2 separate regions of the Homo sapiens genome follow, and region 1 is linked to region 2. A link means that fine-mapping ties the variant in region 2 to the expression of a gene that starts in the linked region. Tissue or cell type: nasal epithelium. Region 2 holds a variant in brackets; the other region holds the start of a gene. All regions are shown on one strand. Distances are between the middles of the regions.

The links.
Region 1: it holds the start of KIF13B, and the variant in region 2 is fine-mapped to the expression of KIF13B in nasal epithelium (TOPMed, PIP above 0.99).

What each region holds. Positions count from the first base shown.
Region 1 is chr8:29,258,162-29,266,717 of GRCh38, forward strand. It overlaps KIF13B (kinesin family member 13B), which reads right to left and starts at 4,909. Exons shown (of 40, transcript NM_015254.4): 1 at 4,819-4,909. The coding sequence starts at 4,873. RefSeq lists a silencer at 4,287-5,116.
Region 2 is chr8:29,281,676-29,290,231 of GRCh38, forward strand. It overlaps LOC124901922 (a long non-coding RNA gene), which reads right to left. Exons shown (of 3, transcript XR_007060874.1): 3 at 6,298-7,873. Among named protein-coding and RNA genes, the nearest start is that of KIF13B, 23 kb to the left of the region's middle. The variant G/A (reference allele first, on the strand shown) is at 3,485.

The DNA.
Region 1 (8,556 bases), 24 kb before region 2:
TCCTGTCCCTTCATTTCCTAAGGGTCACCTCTATCTTCACTGACTACCAGCATCTTCTAAGCTTCCTCGCACTTGCTGGGTTTTTCCTTTGCCTGTTGATTCACAGCTGCTTAATTTTGACCGACTTCCTTATGCTTCCCATTCACAAGGCTTCATTTTCAGCAAGCGCTTTTAAATCCTGCCCAGCTATGCCAGAAATCGGTCATCTACTGAAGCTTCCAATCTTGCTTTGGGATCTAGCAATCTTTCCCCGTTGTGTTTGTGTCCAAGCCCCATACAAGGTCCCAAGAAGCAAAACAGAGTGCGTGGACCAGCCACCCTAGGTCCGGACTTCTGGCCTGGCTGCTTTCAGGGCTTCCTGCAATCCACCTGACCTTTCCTGTCCCATCATTCTCTAGCTATCCTCACAGAATCTCCATTCTGGCAGGCAGATCTCATCTCTGCTGCCTAAACCTGCTTTACTCATTCTAGTCTCTGTGTCCTCACTCTCAGGCCATACTTCCTCCTCAAAGAATACATGCCATCCCCTCTCCCGTGCTCACATCATAAGCTTCCTCCCTGGAAGTCCAACCAAAGTTCACCCTCCTCAGTGAAGTCTAAACTCCTCTCGATTCCCTTATTTCCCTGTCATTCACCTGGCACTTAGTAACTAGCAGCCTGCTACAGCTGTTTACCTTTTAATCTAATCTTTTCACAGGCATTTTCTTTTCAAGCCCATGACAGTCATTTCCTCACAGGCATGAACCATAAAGCATGCTTTAAGAAACTGAATATGATGGTAACAGGCAACCCTAAGAAAACTTTTAGGAAGTAAAATCCCCCTAACAAGAACAATCAATTTCACTTTTTCATGTTTCTTTCTAGCTCTTGCCCATTCCTGTATACATTTTTACATAGTAATAATAATAGATTTGATCAGTTACACGTACAGCTTTACATTCTTTTTCCACTAACAGAGAAAACGATCTTCCTTGTTAAATGGTTTTGACTGTCATCATTTTAATCGCTGTATAATAGTCCCTCCATTGAGATACTAGATCATGATTACCAAGGCACTGACTCTACATTGACTCTATTAGACATTATTACATACTTCTGTGTCTTTCACCACATCAAGTATTGGAAAATGCCAAGTAAACTCATTTGAAATATCTCCTGAAATAAATTTCTTGTCCATTCTCCCTAACACCTGAAATAATCTATTTCACTGTTTCTATCTTCATTTCTTTCGTTTCCCGGTTCTACCCCCTTAGGCTAGGTAGGTAACAAAGGTATTCCAAACACCTTTTATAGATATTTACTTATTTTGGTAGTTGATCTTATACAGATTTACACACAGGAAATCCCTTGAGGAAAAGCATTAAGATCTCATCCTATCTAATATAAGCCAGATACCTGGCAGGCACTCAATCAATGTTTGCTTACCTATTAAATGTTTTTTAAGCCACCTAAAGTTAGAAAACATCAAATTCCTGGAAAGGAGAATGTTGCTGATCTAACTAATCCCACCAATTACGGCTACAGAACTTTCAGCTCCTGTAATGATTAGACGGGTTAATAATGTATGAATGGGTGTTCTGTGCGGCACATGGAAGCACACAAGAATTATCTGTTTAGCTGTACAGTCTGAACAACAACACTGGAAAACAAACGATATCTGCAAATAGAACTTGAAGATCTTGTGACAAAAATTTACCCTTTTCTCTAGTTGTTTAGCTTTGCATCTCAGATGAAGAAAGGCAAAATAAAGGTTGTAATATTAAAATTATGTAAAATTACATACACGTGTGAGCACAAACTGGCATGGAAATGAAAAGCTGTTAGGATGAAGAAAGTATGTGAACTTTTTTCTTTTTCTTTTTCCTTTTGTTAGTGGAATGTTAAAATAAATGTATGACTAGACAAATATTTCTGACAAATTAGCCATTACAACTCTTCCTGTTACTGAATTAGGGCCTAATGCTTAACCTTCAAATAACTAAGGTTCCCAAACCCACATACAGTTTAGCAGAAAGACTAAAATACTCTCACTTCGAGGATAACTGTTAAATAATAAATCAGCTAACCACCTTAAAACTCCAAACACCTAAGCACAACCACTGAATCACACAAGAACTTAATACACCAGAGTTTTCTGGAAATTTTCAGATTTTCCTCAAAAGATAGCTAATGTGATTCCAAATATCAGAGTCTACACAGTAAAACTACATCATCACAGTAACCCATTCTCATCCCCGTCCTCTTTTATAGATAGCGATTTATAAGGTTGCTTCCGGCACCTATATGATAGAAACTATTAGGACTCAAGTTTTACTCTTTGTCATAATTATACAGTATTACATAATACTAATAACTGTTCAAAGTAATATTCTTTTCAAAATTACTGGAAAGGTTCCTACAGATCATACAAGGAAGAAAAAAAAGGAAATTACTGGAAAGAAATATGGTTTTGTTTTAGTCTTTTTTTTTTTTGAGACAGAGTTTCACTCTTGTCGCCCAGGGTGGAGCACAGTGGCACGATCTTGGCTCACTGCAACCTCCGCCTCCTGGGTTCAGGCTATTCTCCCGCCTCAGCCTCCTTAGTAGCTGGGATTACAGGCGTCCACCACCACGCCCGGCTAATTTTTTGTATTTTTAGTAGAGACAGGGTTTTGCCATGTTAGGCAGGCTGGTCTCGAACTCCTGACCTCAGGTGATCCACCCGCCTCGGCCTCCCAAAGTGCTGGGATTATAAGCGTAAGCCACCGTGCCTGGCCTGTTTTAGTCTTTTTATACAAACTTTGGACACCAATTTTTAAAAATCACTGGATTTACAATCCCACCACACTGTATTCCATAATAACCTTTATATTTATGTGAACAATTACTTCATAACAAAAATGGAAAAGAACAAATTTATGTGTGGTAATCACTGAAAAAAGAAGTCCACATGCACGTCAGGAAATATAAGGCTAAGAATGGGCACTAAGTGAACACAGGAGGTACTTTACACCAAATAATGCACTTCTCTATATAGGCTAATGGAATCTATGGGTAAACCTCAATTTCAAAATGATTGTTGAACCCAAGGATCAGCTCACATCCGTTCCACAGCTAAAACTATTATTCTTTGCCTTCCTCTAAACTCTGATGTTTATTACAACCTTATCAATGGCAATTTATAAGAGAAAAGCATAAGAATTTCCCTCAAAAAGTGAAACCAATGGGGAAAGGGAGAGGGAAAGGGCTCTAAATATCTGAGATGTCTTTTGTGGTGGTTGGTTAGCGGCCTCTTTTTAGCACTGACATTTCCAAGTTTTTTGTGAAAAGGAAATTTTAAGAATGTGCTGAAACCATCCTTTCAGAATCAATTCCCAGATAAGTTATGTTTCATTTGGCTTCTTTCTTTAAATTATTGTGATGGTAAACTGGAAGTAAACTGAAATACAGATACCTGAATATTTAAAAACTGATGCTTCTGAAAATTTTCAGAATTGTATCGACGTTTATTGTGTGTTGTCAGAGCACGAGATTAGTGAAGCAAAGCAGGACTCAATCTTGCACTAGTTGAGAACTTAAAGTAATTAAGTTCTTAGGGAAAAAAACTCACCTGACAGCTTTAATCGGACCTAGCAGGAACAGGACAAAACAATTCCCATAGATGAGATAACTCCAAGCGAGAAACCAATTTCCCCGAGAAGGACAAACCAACAAAGCTTATGTCAACTGGTTGATCTGTATGTCTCAATATATACAAAAGAAAGCAAAGAAGAGGAAAACAACCTATAATTTCTACATAAAAATTAAACAACACTTGATTTTGCTAAGAAGCTACAACTTTGTCTCTGGTACTTAAATGATTCTAATTAGTTCAAAGTCTCATCAATGGCAAAGTCATCTCCTGAGACAGTAATAGTGACCCCCAATGACAGGACCTTGTATATAAAGCGTTTTCAAACACATTATCTTATTTAAAGCAACTCACCCAGTCATGCTGCTTTGACTATCAAAGCCAAGACCCAGCCCACCTCCTCCCCTGACTTTTGGGGTTCTCTCCACTCCCCGGGTCTACAGATTATTTAAATGTACTCGGTTTATCTGCCTTCTCTACACTCCCTGCAGAGTTAAGAGAATGTCAGAAAGATACAATTCCACAAGAATCTTGGCACTTTAGCTATTTATTGAGAGATGATGAATGAGACTTCAGGCAAAACCAAAACTTTCTCAACTGTCCAAAAACAACGAAAAGGGCATCTCCTCCACCTGACCCCAATCTCAGGACGCCCAGGTGGAAGGAACTCGCCGCGGGGCACCCGCCTGGCCCCCTGCCCTTCTTCCCGCCGCGGGCCAAGGCGGTGCAGGCTTGGGCGACCCGGGCGAGACGCGGGGTCCCGGGGGGTCCCGGGCGGTCCCGAGGCGGGCTGCAGGGGCTGGCGACCCGCGCGCGGGGGCGACGATGACAGCTGGCGGGGAAGGAGCGAGGCTGAGGGGCCAGGACGAGGCTGGGCGCGAGGGCCGAGGGCGCCCTCGGGAACCTCCGGGGGAGACGAGAGGGCAAAAGGGCGCAGGGGCGGGGCGGGCGCAGGCGGAAGGGGCAGCGGGGCCGGCACGAGGGGCCCGACGGCGCCAGGGACGGGGCTGGCCAGGGGGGAAGGGAGGGGAGAAGAGGGAGCCGGGCGTCTCAGCGCGGGAGCGGGTTTCAGGGTCCCCGGGCCCCTCCTCGCGCCCCGCCGCTGACTATAGGGGCGGGGCCGCCGGACCCCCCACGGCGGCCGAGGGAAGGGCGCGCCAGGCACCTGCCGCCTCCGCCCCGGCGGCCCAGGAGGGCTCGGCTCTCACCTCGCCGGTTCATGGGTCGTATCCGCACCGCCACTTTCACTTTGGAGTCCCCCATCCTGCAGCCGCCGAGGAACTCGTTCGGCTTCCGTCTGCCGCGGCCACCGGCGACTCTTCGGGGTTGACCCGGCGGGAGGGGGCCGGGGGCGGAGCCGGGGGTGGGGACCGGGCTGGGGGCGGGGCCGGCGCGAGCTCCGGGCGCTCCCCGCTGTATGGCGGGACTTGTAGTTCCCCAGGGTCGTCGTGGGCGGGGCCGCAGCGAAGGCGGGGGCGGGAATGCTCGGGCGCGAGTCGTTTGCTACAACTTACCTACAGCAATGACGGCTTTTGTAAATTACACACCATTCTTGCTCTCGCAGCCAGTATTGAGAAGTAAGCCTTCAAGAGCTGATACCTCTTCTGAAAAACAATTGAATAGATGGCGTCAGGGACCCCGCTACCTCTTCCTGCTCATTTCCTGCCAATCTTAGTGTTTGATCCCTGGCTCAAGTTATTTCCTCTGCCTGGATTGACGTCCGGCCTTGTTTGCTGAGCTCGTCCTTCACGACAAGTTGCAAATCACGTTTTCTGGGAGTGTCCATAGGTCCACGGGTTAACATTGTCCTGTGAGTCCCCCTCCTTTGAGACAGGACCTTGGGCTCTGAAAACCATCTGAGTTCAAAGCCCACCTCAGCGCTTCCCACTGTGTGACCAGGGGCAAGTTATTTGACCGCTCTGGGCTTGTCTTTAATATGAAAAGTGGATATGATACTAATACCTAGTAAAATAGGTACATTTTTAAATAAGATTAACATATGTGTAACCTAGCCTTTAGTAGAGACCCATAAACATTAATTGCATGAATTAATGAATGAGGCCACACTAAAATTAGCTTTTTATTAGCCCTGGCAGACATTCTAACAGGTGGCCTGGGTGCCAGAGCCAGCACGCAAACATGTTCTGTTTGGCCCAACAGTGTTGGCCAACACATAAAAATCAGATTTGTGGCCAGGTGCAGGGGCTCACACCTGGAATCCCAGCATTTTAGGATGCTGAGGCAGGAGGATTGCTTGAGGCCAGGAGTTTGAGACCAGCTTGGGTAACAGAGTGTGAAATCAGATTTGTGCATGCAGTACTGGGCCTACATTACATATTGGACAGAGTGGATTGGAACTAAATAGCAGCAGCCACCTTTATCAGAGACCCGTCTCTCCACTTCACCACGGCCCCCCTCCAGGTGGCTTTACCACACATGCGCCTGGACCTTGTGGGTTTGTGACCCCTGCTTAGATGTGTTTAAATGATAGTAATAGAACTCAGAACCATTTTACAGATGAGTAAATACAGAAAGCTGGTAAGACTTGCCCTTTTACCAACCATCCTGTTATTGAGTATCTTCAATACAAGCAATGTTGTCAAAAAGTATAAAAATACTTTTTTTTTTTTGAGATGGATCTAGCTCTGTCACCCAGGCTGGAGTACAGTGGCATGATCTCGGCTCACTGCAACCTCCACCTCCTGGCTTCAAGCGACTCTCATGCCTCAACCTCGACAGTAGCTGGGATTACAGGCATGTGCCACCAATCCTGGCTAATTTTCATATTTTTAGTAGAGACGTAGTTTTGCCATGTTGACCAGGCTGGTCTCGAACTCCTGACCTCAGGTGATCCACCCACCTCAGTCTCCCAAAGTGCTGGGATTACAGGCATAAGCCACTGTGTCCGGTCTAAAAATACCTTTAAAAGAAAGGAAATTCTGAAACATGCTGCAACATGGATGATGGGCCTTGAAAACATTATGCTAGGTGAAATAAGCCAGACACAAAAGAACAACCACTGCATGGTTCTACATATATGAGATACACATGGTAGTCAAATTCATGGAGATAGAAAGTAGACTGGAGGTTACTAAGGGCTAGGAGAAGGGGGTATGAGGAGTTAGTATTCAATGGGTGCAGAGATTCGGCTTGGGAAGATTTCAGCTGCGGAAATGAATGGTGGTGATGGTTGCACAACAATGTAAATGTACTTAACGCCACCTAACCACTTAAGAGTGGTTAAGGCAGTAAGGTTTTTTGGGTTTTTTTAGAGACAGGATCTCGCTCTGTTTGCCCAGACTGGAGTGCAGTGGTGTGATCATAGCTCACTGCAGCCTCAAACTCCTGGGCTCAAGCGATTTTCCTGCTTCAGCCTCTCACCTAGATGGAATTACAGGTACGCACCACGACACCTAGCTAATTTTTATATTTCATTTTTTGGTAGAGATGGAGTCTCGCTATGTTGTCCAGGCTGGTCTTGAACTCTTGGCCTCAAGTAATCCTCCTCACTTCAGCCTCCCAAAGCACTAGGATTACAGGTGTGAGCCATTACACCCAGCCAAGATGGTAAGCTTTTTGTTGTTGTTTGTTTGTTTGTTTGAGATGGAGTCTTGCTCTGTCGCCCAGGCTGGAATGCAGTGAGTGACATGATCTCTGCTCACTGCAGTCTCTGCCTCCTGGGTTCAAGTGATTCTCCTGCCTCAGCCTCCAGAGTGACTGGGATTACAGGTGTGCACCATCACACACAGCTAATTTTTATATTTTTAATAGAGATGGGGATTCACCATGTTGGCCAGGCTGGTCTCAAACTCTTGACCTCAAGTGATCCACCCACCTCAGCCCCCCCAAAATGCTGGGATTACAGGTGTGAGCCACTGTGCCTGGCCAATAGTAAGTTTTATGTTACGTGTTTTTTATCAAAATTTCAAAAAAGGTTAAAAATAGAAAATGCTACCCCAGAAGGCCCTCTTTTTTAAAAAAGGAAATTTCTTTCTTAGGGGCACTGCCTCTGCACTTCAGGAGGTCTCATCTAGACCAGCAGTGGGTTTAGTGCAGCAGGTCCTTTGATTTTCACAGCCCAATAAAGTAAACAACATCAGGATAACCAAATTAGGATTGCCAATCTCAGTGTTTGACACTATGACAGCTTCTTAATTTTAGCAAGTATATATTTTTTTGAGACAGGGTCTCATTCTGTGCCCAGGCTGGAGTGCAGTGGCACCATCTTAGCTCACTGCAGCCTCAACCTCCCAGGCTCAAGCGATCCTCCCACCTTAGCCTCCCAAGTAGCTGGGACTACAAGCATGCACCACCATGCCCAGCTGATTTTTAAATTTTTTGTAGAAACAGTGTCTCGCTATGTTACCCACTCTGGTCTTGAACCCATGACCTCAAGTGATCCTCCCACCTCAGCCTCCCAAAGTGTTGGAATTACAGGTGTGAGCCATTGTGCTAGGTCACCGAGTAAATTATTTGAAAAAGAATGCACACAAAAATTACTATCTACCATCACTATCTTTTTTTTTTTTTAAAAAAGATCATAAAGGGTATGATTTTATATTGAAATTGTTTTGCCCTACTGTTCTTTTGCTCTTATTTAGTGTTGAAGTCACCTTTGCCATGGCCCCAGACTGGTTACCACAGGTTGGTACTCTTGTCTTAAACACACATCCTAATTACCACCTCCCTACATTCAGGTTATAAAAAATAAGGATTTGGAATGTCCCAAGATTCCATACGTCACTTTATATCTCTTTTATAACCAGGTAAATTTAATTTTTAAATGGCACGTCCTGGTGCTAGCTTGAATCTGGCTTTTTAAACAGAGTCAAAGCAGGCAGAAAAAGAGAACAAGAGAACATTTCTATGGAAATATTGTGTTTAAACTTAAGCTGAAACTGAAAAGAGAGGAAAGCCCCTAAGGACCTCAAGGAAGGGAAGAATAG
Region 2 (8,556 bases):
TCGAGAGCAGCCTGGCCAACATTGTGAAACCCCGTCTCTACTAAAAATACAAAAATTAGCAGGGTGTAGTGGCAGGCACCTGTAATCCCAGCTACTCGGGAGGCTGAGGTAGGAGAATCGCTTGAACCTGGAAGGCAAAGATTGCAGTAAGCCGAGATTGCGCCACTGCACTCCAGCCTGGGAGACAGCGAGACTCTGTTTCAAACAACAACAACAAAAATATATGGGAGAACTAATGGAAGATAAGGGTTTCATGAGTAAGGTGTGTTTATGCAAACTGGTCTCAATGTCTTCTCCCTGTATCCAGTTATCAAAACGCTCTTCTGTTCTGGGGCAAGGAGAGAGTTACCTGTTTTGAGGGGAAATATATGCCTTATTTTTAGACAGGTGGGAGGACAGAGAGCTCTTCCCACATCTGCTATTTCTCAATTGCCTTCATCTCAAAAGAGTCAATATGCCAACGTGGCATGTTCTGGTTCCCTTCATGGTGACTGTTGTTGGTGTGATCTAACCCATTCTTTGAAATACTGGTGTTTCATAGAGCAATCAAGGGAACGATATGATAATGTGTGTTCTTTAGCGTGGTATGCTCAAGCCAATTCTTTTTTTTTTTTTTTAGATGGAGTCTCACTCTGTCACCCAGGCCAGAGTGCAGTGGTGCCATTAGGGCTCATTGCAGCCTTGAACTCCTGGGCTCAAGTGATCCTACTTCCTCAAGTGATCCTACTTCCTCAGCCTCCCTGCAGCTGAGACAGGTGCGCACCACCCCGCCTGGCTAATAGGTTTATTTTTTGTAGCAATAGGGACTTGCTATGTTACCCAGGCTGGTCTCAAACTCTTAGCCTCAAGTGATCTCACGTTTGCCTCTCAAAGTGCTGGGATTACAGGTGTGAGCCACCACACCCAGCCTTTTTGGTGTCTTTTGAAGAAACAGAAAAACTTCTGGCCAGGTGAAGCTGAGGCAGGAGGCCAAGGGATCCTTGGTGCAAGACCAACCTGGGCAACATAGCAAGACTGTTTCTACAAAAAATAAAAAGTATTAGTGGGGTGCAGTAGTGTGCACCTGTAGTCCCAGCTACCAGGAGGCTGAGGAAGGAGGATTGCTTGAACCCAGGAGTTTGAGGCTGCAGTGAGCCATGATCACACTACTGCACTCCAGCCTGGGTGACAGAGTAAGACCCTGTCTCAAAAACAAACAAACAAAAACCCAAAAAACCTTTTGATTGAGAAAGTCTTGCCTGTCTAACCCCAGACTTGTGAGAATCTGCTCCATATGTGCCTTATTCTCCTGTCTACCACACCCCACCCATCAAGTATGTGCTGTTTCTGCTATTTGCCTCCTTAATCAGGCACCCTGTCCTTCCAACTGTCATTAAAATGACACAGTTGTTTAGCCTTCCTTTTCAGTGACTACTGGGTCATGCTGGCATTGGTATTGTAATCTGAACTCTTAGAAAACCTGATCGTAATAGTCACAGTGTTAAAGATTAAACTACACTATCTCAATACAAACAAAGCACAACAGTTACTCCACAGGCAAAGGCAGAGCCAGACTGTCCATGCTCACAGTAACAAAGCATGTGAGTTGTGCACTGAAGTCCTATCATGCCCAGCAAGAATTATAGCAGCCCTTGTCCCTAATAATAATGTCTATTACTGGGAACTGCAAATCAGTATCAGTGGCCAATGACCATGGAAGGTGGACAGTCTGTGCACTAACCGCTTGACACCGAAACCAGTGTTGCTTTCAACCCCAATTTTTTGATTGCCATGCAAGTTTTGTACTTGACCTCAGTCTTCCACATTCATTGCTAAAAACTGGGACTTCTCATGTCCTGCAGAGGACTCTTGTGAAATGTGGAGCTTTAACTGCTAAAACCACACAGGCACAGGCCCTGTGAACAACAAACTTTCAGATATTTGTGGTAGAAATATATATTGGTGCAACTTTTCATTTTTCTTTCTTTTTTTTTTTTTTTTTTTTTGAGATGGAGTCTCGCTCTGCCGCCCAGGCAAGAGTGCAGCGGCACAATCTCAACTCACTGCAACCTCCATCTCCCGGGTTTAAGCGATTCTCCTGCCTCAGCCTCCTGAGTAGCTGGGATTACAGGTGCCCACCACCACACCCGGCTAATTTTTGTATTTTTAGTAGAGATGGGGCTTCACCACTGTTGGCCAGGCTGGTCTCAAACTCCTGACCTCAGGTGATCCTCCTACCTTGGGTTCCCAAACTGCTGGGATGACAGGCATGAGCCACCATTCCCAGCCTTGTGCAACTTGTCTGGAGAGCAACTTGAATGTGCATTTCAAGAGTCTTAAACATATTTATAACTTTGAGCCAGTAATTCCATTTTCAGGAAATTTATCCTAAGGAAATAATTAAGGAAGTTCCTAAACATTTATAATTATGGATAGTTGACTGGGTTTTTTTTATAACATTTGAAAATTGAAAATAGTTTAAATTTTCAACAGTAGGGAAATAAACTGTGACATATATGTAATATATTAAATTTTTTAACAATGGGATGCAGTCATTAAGTACAGTCCTTTTGTTTTATGTTGCATGCCCTTCTAATGAATAAATGCAGTCCTTTAAACTCATGTTTTTGTACCTTAAAACTTATTTATTTATTTTCCATGACAGAGTCTTGCTCTGTCGCCCAGGCTGGAGTGCAGTGGTGCAATCTCGGCTCACTGAAACCTCTGCCTCCCGGTTTAAGCAATTTCCTGCCTCAGCCTCCCCAGTAGCTGGGATTACAGGCACCTGGTACCACGCCCATCTAATTTTTATATTTTTAGTAGACAGGGTTTCACCATGTTGGCCAGGCTGGTCTTGAACTCCTGACCTTGTGATCTGCCCGCCTCGGCCTCCCAAAGTACTGGGATTACAGGTGTGAGTTACCGTGCCTAGCCAAAACTCATTTTAAAAAGTAACTTTAAGAAGCAGTTTACAGTGTGATCTAATTTTTTGTCAAACAATGCATGTATATGAATATATATACAGTATAAGAAAAAGAAAAACTAGAAAGAAACAATTCACACTGTTATATGTGAGTGGGAAGATTATGGCTCATTTTACTTTTTTATTATACTTTTCATATTTTCCCAATTTTCTGTAATCAACACTTTTTTTCTGGTGCTTTTTAAAAATAATCAAATAAAATGTTTTAGTACTGTCTGAAGGTTGAGTGATTGCTAACTGTGAACATGAAATTTTTGGAATTAGCAGTAAGGCTCATGCTGTAAGGAAATGACTTTTCCATTGCAGACTAGAATGGGATGCTGATGCTGAGATAAACCATGAGAAACAGAAAACTCCAGGCTGGGCACGGTGGCTCACGCCTGTAATCCAACACTTTGGGAGGCTGAGGCGAGGATTGTTTGAGCCCAGGAGTTCAAGACCAGCCTAGGCAGCCATAGTGCAACCCCATATCTACAGATAATAATAATAATAATAATAATAATAATAATAAATTAGCTGGGC[G/A]TGGTGGCATGTGCTTGTGGTCCCAGTTACTTAGGAGGCTGAAGAGGGAGCCTTGAGCCCAGGAAGTTGAGGCTGCAGTGAGCCACAATCGCACTACTACTCCAGCCTGGGTGACAGAGTGAGACCCTGCCTCAAAACAAACAAACAAACAACAAAAAATGGAAATAAGGGAACTCCACAAAGAAATTTACCAAAGGTTTCACCAAGATGTAGAGAATTACCCTATATTATTTATTGTTCTGACTTATATAAGTAACTTTAATTATAGAGTAAATTGCCCACAGTTCTCATTCCTTAGTGTAGATTTCCTCATTCTTTTTTTTTTTTTTGAAACAGTCTCGCTCTGTCACCCAGGCTAGAGTGCAATGGTGCGATCTCAGCTCACTGCAACCTCCGCTTCCTGGGTTCAAGTGATTCTTGTGCCTCAGCCTCCCCAGTAGCTGCAATTACAGGTGCACACCACCATGCTGGGCTAATTTTTTGTATTTTTAGTAGAGATGGGGTTTCACCATGTTGGCCAGGCTGGTCTCAAACTTCTGACCTCATATGATCTGCCCGCCTTGGCCTCCCAAAGTGCTAAGATTATAGGTGGGAGCCGCTGCACCCAACCGGATTCCCTCATTCTTGATGCATCTTTTAGTTGATTTTAATGTCTTGAGTTCCCCTGAACAGACTGTGAACTCGGTGGCTCTCAGCTGACAACTGCAGAAGGGATGTAGTGAGCTGATGTGAGAGGTAGCACCTGCTTCTACAATGGGACTTGTGGCTGTGTCCTGCGAGTCTGTTACACTGGCATGACTCAAGGCAAGGAGGGACAAGATGATGAGTCTCAAGTCTACTGCAGGGACATTCATTAAGAGCATGGCCTTCCCAGACAAGTGGTGCAAGCCTTGTATTAGGGAACTGTATACATGTTGAATCCTTGTCACCTGTAACTCTTGCCTACTCCGTAGTCCAACATGGTTCCTTTGATTCTGAAATCTCATTCTTGCTCTGACTATAGAAGTAATTGTGCTTTTCTATTTGGGTTTCTTGTGCCACATGTGATAAAATAGGGGAAAGCAAAAAAGGAGGCAGGAATAGATGAGTAGCAGAAACCATGATATCAAAATGGGAAGATGGTGGGTTTTGCACAGTCTACTGGAATACCCCATGCATTATCCTCAGGTTCCTAAGACACCAAAGAGAAGGTAAATTGTGGCCAGGTACTGTGGCTCATGTCTGTAATCTCAGCACTTTGGGAGGATGAGGTGGGAGGATCACTTGAGTCCAGGAGTTTGAGACCAGCCTGGGCAACATAGCAAGACCCTGTCCCTATTAAAAAAAAGAAAAGGAAAGGAAAGGTAAATTGTGTTGGATCAACCCAAAAGACTGCCCCCCCTTTCCCTAGATTAACTTATTCCAAATTTCTCTCTTCCTTGTTTTTCAATGTTCAGTTCATCACCTAGTCCTTTATCAGAAGAGTAAGCGGAAGCTGGTGACCTGTAAGGCTCCAGTGGCTGAGGTTGGGGGCTGGTGGGGGCGAGGCAGTTTAGAACTGCAAAATGAAAGCTCCAGTTTGCAAAAGCTAAGAAACTAGAACCTATCAAGCTGGCACTCAGGGGATGCAGCACCAAGGACCAAAGAAAAATAATCACCACCATTCTGGGACCATCAAGGAGCCCAGACAACATGAAATTCCAGCCCCAGCCAAGGGGTGACTAGGTCACCGAAAGTCTGAAACTGGTTCTCTATCCAGGATGTTATCAGTAAACCATAAACCGGATCAAGAATCCAGGAAGTTATGAGGGCGGGTCAAGGTGTGTTTGTGGCCTGATTTGAAGACAAGGCTTGTTTGCTTTAGAAGGTACGTCTGTATAATTGCTCCAGGGCAGGAACTGGGGTGAGTTCGGCCTATCCCAGACAAATGGGGCCCAGGAGGAAGAACCTGAGAACTGTGTGGCTGCAGATGAGCCGACAGACGAAGGCTCAGGTGTGAAGAAACAGAGGTGACAACAGTGCCACTCAACGCTGGCTGCACATTTGACTCACCTGGGAGCTTTAAAAAAAAAAAAAAAAAAATCCCAGTGTTCAGCCACGCCCCAGACCAATTAGATTGGAATTTCTGGGGGTTGGGCCCAGGCGCTGGTGTGTTTTTAAAGGCCCGAGGTGATTTTAATGTGCAGCCGGGACTGGGTGCCACTGGATTATCGGTAGGTTTTCAGAGCTGCTAAGAAGTTCATTCTGATGGATTCATTTTCTTGTGACTGGCTAGTAATTACAAAATAAGCTTTACAAAAATAGTGTTGAAAGAAACATTCAAACAATCCTAAATGTGCTTTTTAAACAGAGATAAAATAAATCCTCTTAGACTTCACCACTATACAATTCATCCATGTAACCAAAAACCACTTGTACCCCCAAAACTATTAATAATTACAACTATATATATATTTTTTCAAAGGTCTATATGCCAAGGCAAATCTAAAAAATGAAATAAGAAAATAAATTATCAATAAAGCTCCTTCTAGCTTTAAAAGGAAAAAAAAGTTCTACTTAAGCTAAGGAGTTGGGGTTTTATCCACATGGAGCAGGACCCTGGAAGATTTTTTAATTAATTAATTCATTCATTATGAGACAGGGTCTCGCTATGTTGCCCAGGCTGGTCTTGAACTCCTGAGCTCAAGGAATCCTTCTGCCTCAGCCTCCAGGTAGCTGGGGCCACAAGTGCGTACCACCATGCCCAGCTTCTAGGAGATTTTGATCAGAAGAGTGATGGAAAAAAAGTGAAAATGTAGGAAGAGTGATCAGACATTGAGGTATAATGTAGTCAATTTTGTTCTAAGGCAAACATTTATTAATAATAGTGGCTTAGCTGGGCGTGGTGGTACATGCCTGTGGTCCCAGCTACTTGGGAGGCTGAGGCAGGAGGATTGCTTGAGCCCAGGAGATAGAGACTGTAGTAGTGAGCCATGTCCAGTCACTGCCCTCCAGTCACTGCCACTGGGTGGCAGAGCGAGACCCTGCCTCAAAAAAAAAAAAAAAAAAAAAAAAAGTGCCGGAACAGTGGCCCACACCTGAAATCCCAGCACTTTGGGAGGCCGAGGCAGGAGGATCACTTCAGGTTAGGATTTCAAGACCAGCCTGGCCAACATAGCGAAACCTTGTCTCTACTAAAAATACAGAAATTAGCCAGGTGTGGTGGTGGGCACCTGTAATCCCAGCTACTCAGGAGGCTGAGGCAGGAGAATCACTTGAACCTGGGAGGTGGAGGTTGCAGTGAGCTGAGATCATGCCACTACACTCCAGCCTGGGTCACAGAGCCAGACTCCGTCTCAAAAACAAACAAACAAACAAACAAACAAAATAGTGACTAGCATTTATTGAAGAAAGCCCTGTGACAGTAACGGTCTTATTCAGCTCTGCCTTTTTTTTTTGAGACAGGGTCTCACTCTGTCACCTAGGCTGGAGTGCAGTGGTGTGATCATAGGTTACTCCAACCTTTGCCTCCCAGGATCAAGCGATCCTCCCACCTCAGCCTCCCAAGTAGCTGGGATTACAGGTGCCCGCCACCACGCCCAGCTAATTTTTTGTTTTTTGATAGAGATGGGGTTTCGCTATGTTGACCAGGCTGGTCTCAAACTCCTGACCTCGTGATCCGCCTGCCTCAGCCTCCCAAAGTGCTGGGATTATAGGCATGAGCCACCGAGCCCGGCCAAGTTACCTGATTTTCTAAGCTGCGTCTGGAGTACATGGAGGTGGAAAACAAGACTTTCCCATGTACCAGCTATGAGCCAAGTACTATTCTAGGCACTTTCACTTGCATGACTTCATTTAATGACAAACATTTGTATTTTTAAAATCTTTGGTCCTATTTATAAGTTAAAACTCTTTGAGAAGAAACCAATCCTTGGGAAGGCTATGGTTAATTTCAGCCTTATGGTAGCTGAAAGAAAAAATAAGGTTTCAGGGTTCCAGCTTAGGGTTTCAAGGAATGAAGCTCTGTATGGTGAGTCTTCTCAGCCTTTGAGAAGACTTATTGTACAGTTGTGTGGGACAGAATGGCACCACCTAGTACTTGATGTGTATCTGTGGAGAAACACACTTAGACGACTTAGAGCTAGGATTATGTCATTGTCAACACCAATGGCACGAAAATTCCCCCAGTCCCCGGAGGAGCTGAACAACAGCTGAGGTGATCAAATCTCTGATGGCCTCCACAGATGGACTCCTTCCAATATGGTGCCAGGATCATCCAAGAGGACAGCTGCCTTCCCACTGGATCCTGAGCAGGACTTGCGGGTTGGCTCACTGCTGAGGGCTGGCCCGAGGGATGTCAGAAGTCCAAGGACAGGAAAGCAACGTTCACGTGAGCTTTTTCCACCTTCCTTCTGTGAAGGGAGCCTGTGACTGAATAGAAGCCATGCTTAAAGTATCATTGTTTTAAAAGCTAATGTTGCTGTGTGGCTCTGAAACACGACTTGCCAACGAGCCCTCTCACAGGTGTTCATCTTGCTTATTCAGAAATGAATATTTCACAGCTTCCTGCCCTGGAAATTGGCTTCCACCCAACTGAATGAGTCACACACTTGTGGATAAGCTCTCTTGGGTAATTCTTCTTTAAAACTTTTTTTCTTACGGTAAAATGTACACAACGTAAAATTGACCTTTTTAACCTTTTATTTTTGAGACCAGGTCTCACTCTGTTGCCCAGGCTGGAGTGCAGTTATGCGGTCACGGCTCACCTCACTGCAGCCTCAACCTCCCAGGCTCAAGTAATCCTCCCACCCCAGCCTCCCGAATATCTGGACCACAGACATGCACCACCATATGTGGCTAATTTTTTTATTTTTATTTTTTGTGGAGACAAGGTCTTGCTATGTTGCCGAGGCTGGTCTTGAACTCCTGGCTCAAGTTATCCTCCCGCCTCAGACTCCCAAAGTGCTGGGATTACAGGCATAAGCCACCACATCCAGCCCATTTTAACCATTTTTAAGTGTATAGTTCAGTGATACTAAGTATAAAATATTTTTTAAGGTGCTTTATACCCTGAACTGAAAGATTTGACTACCCTTTGTCATGCCTAGTTTCTA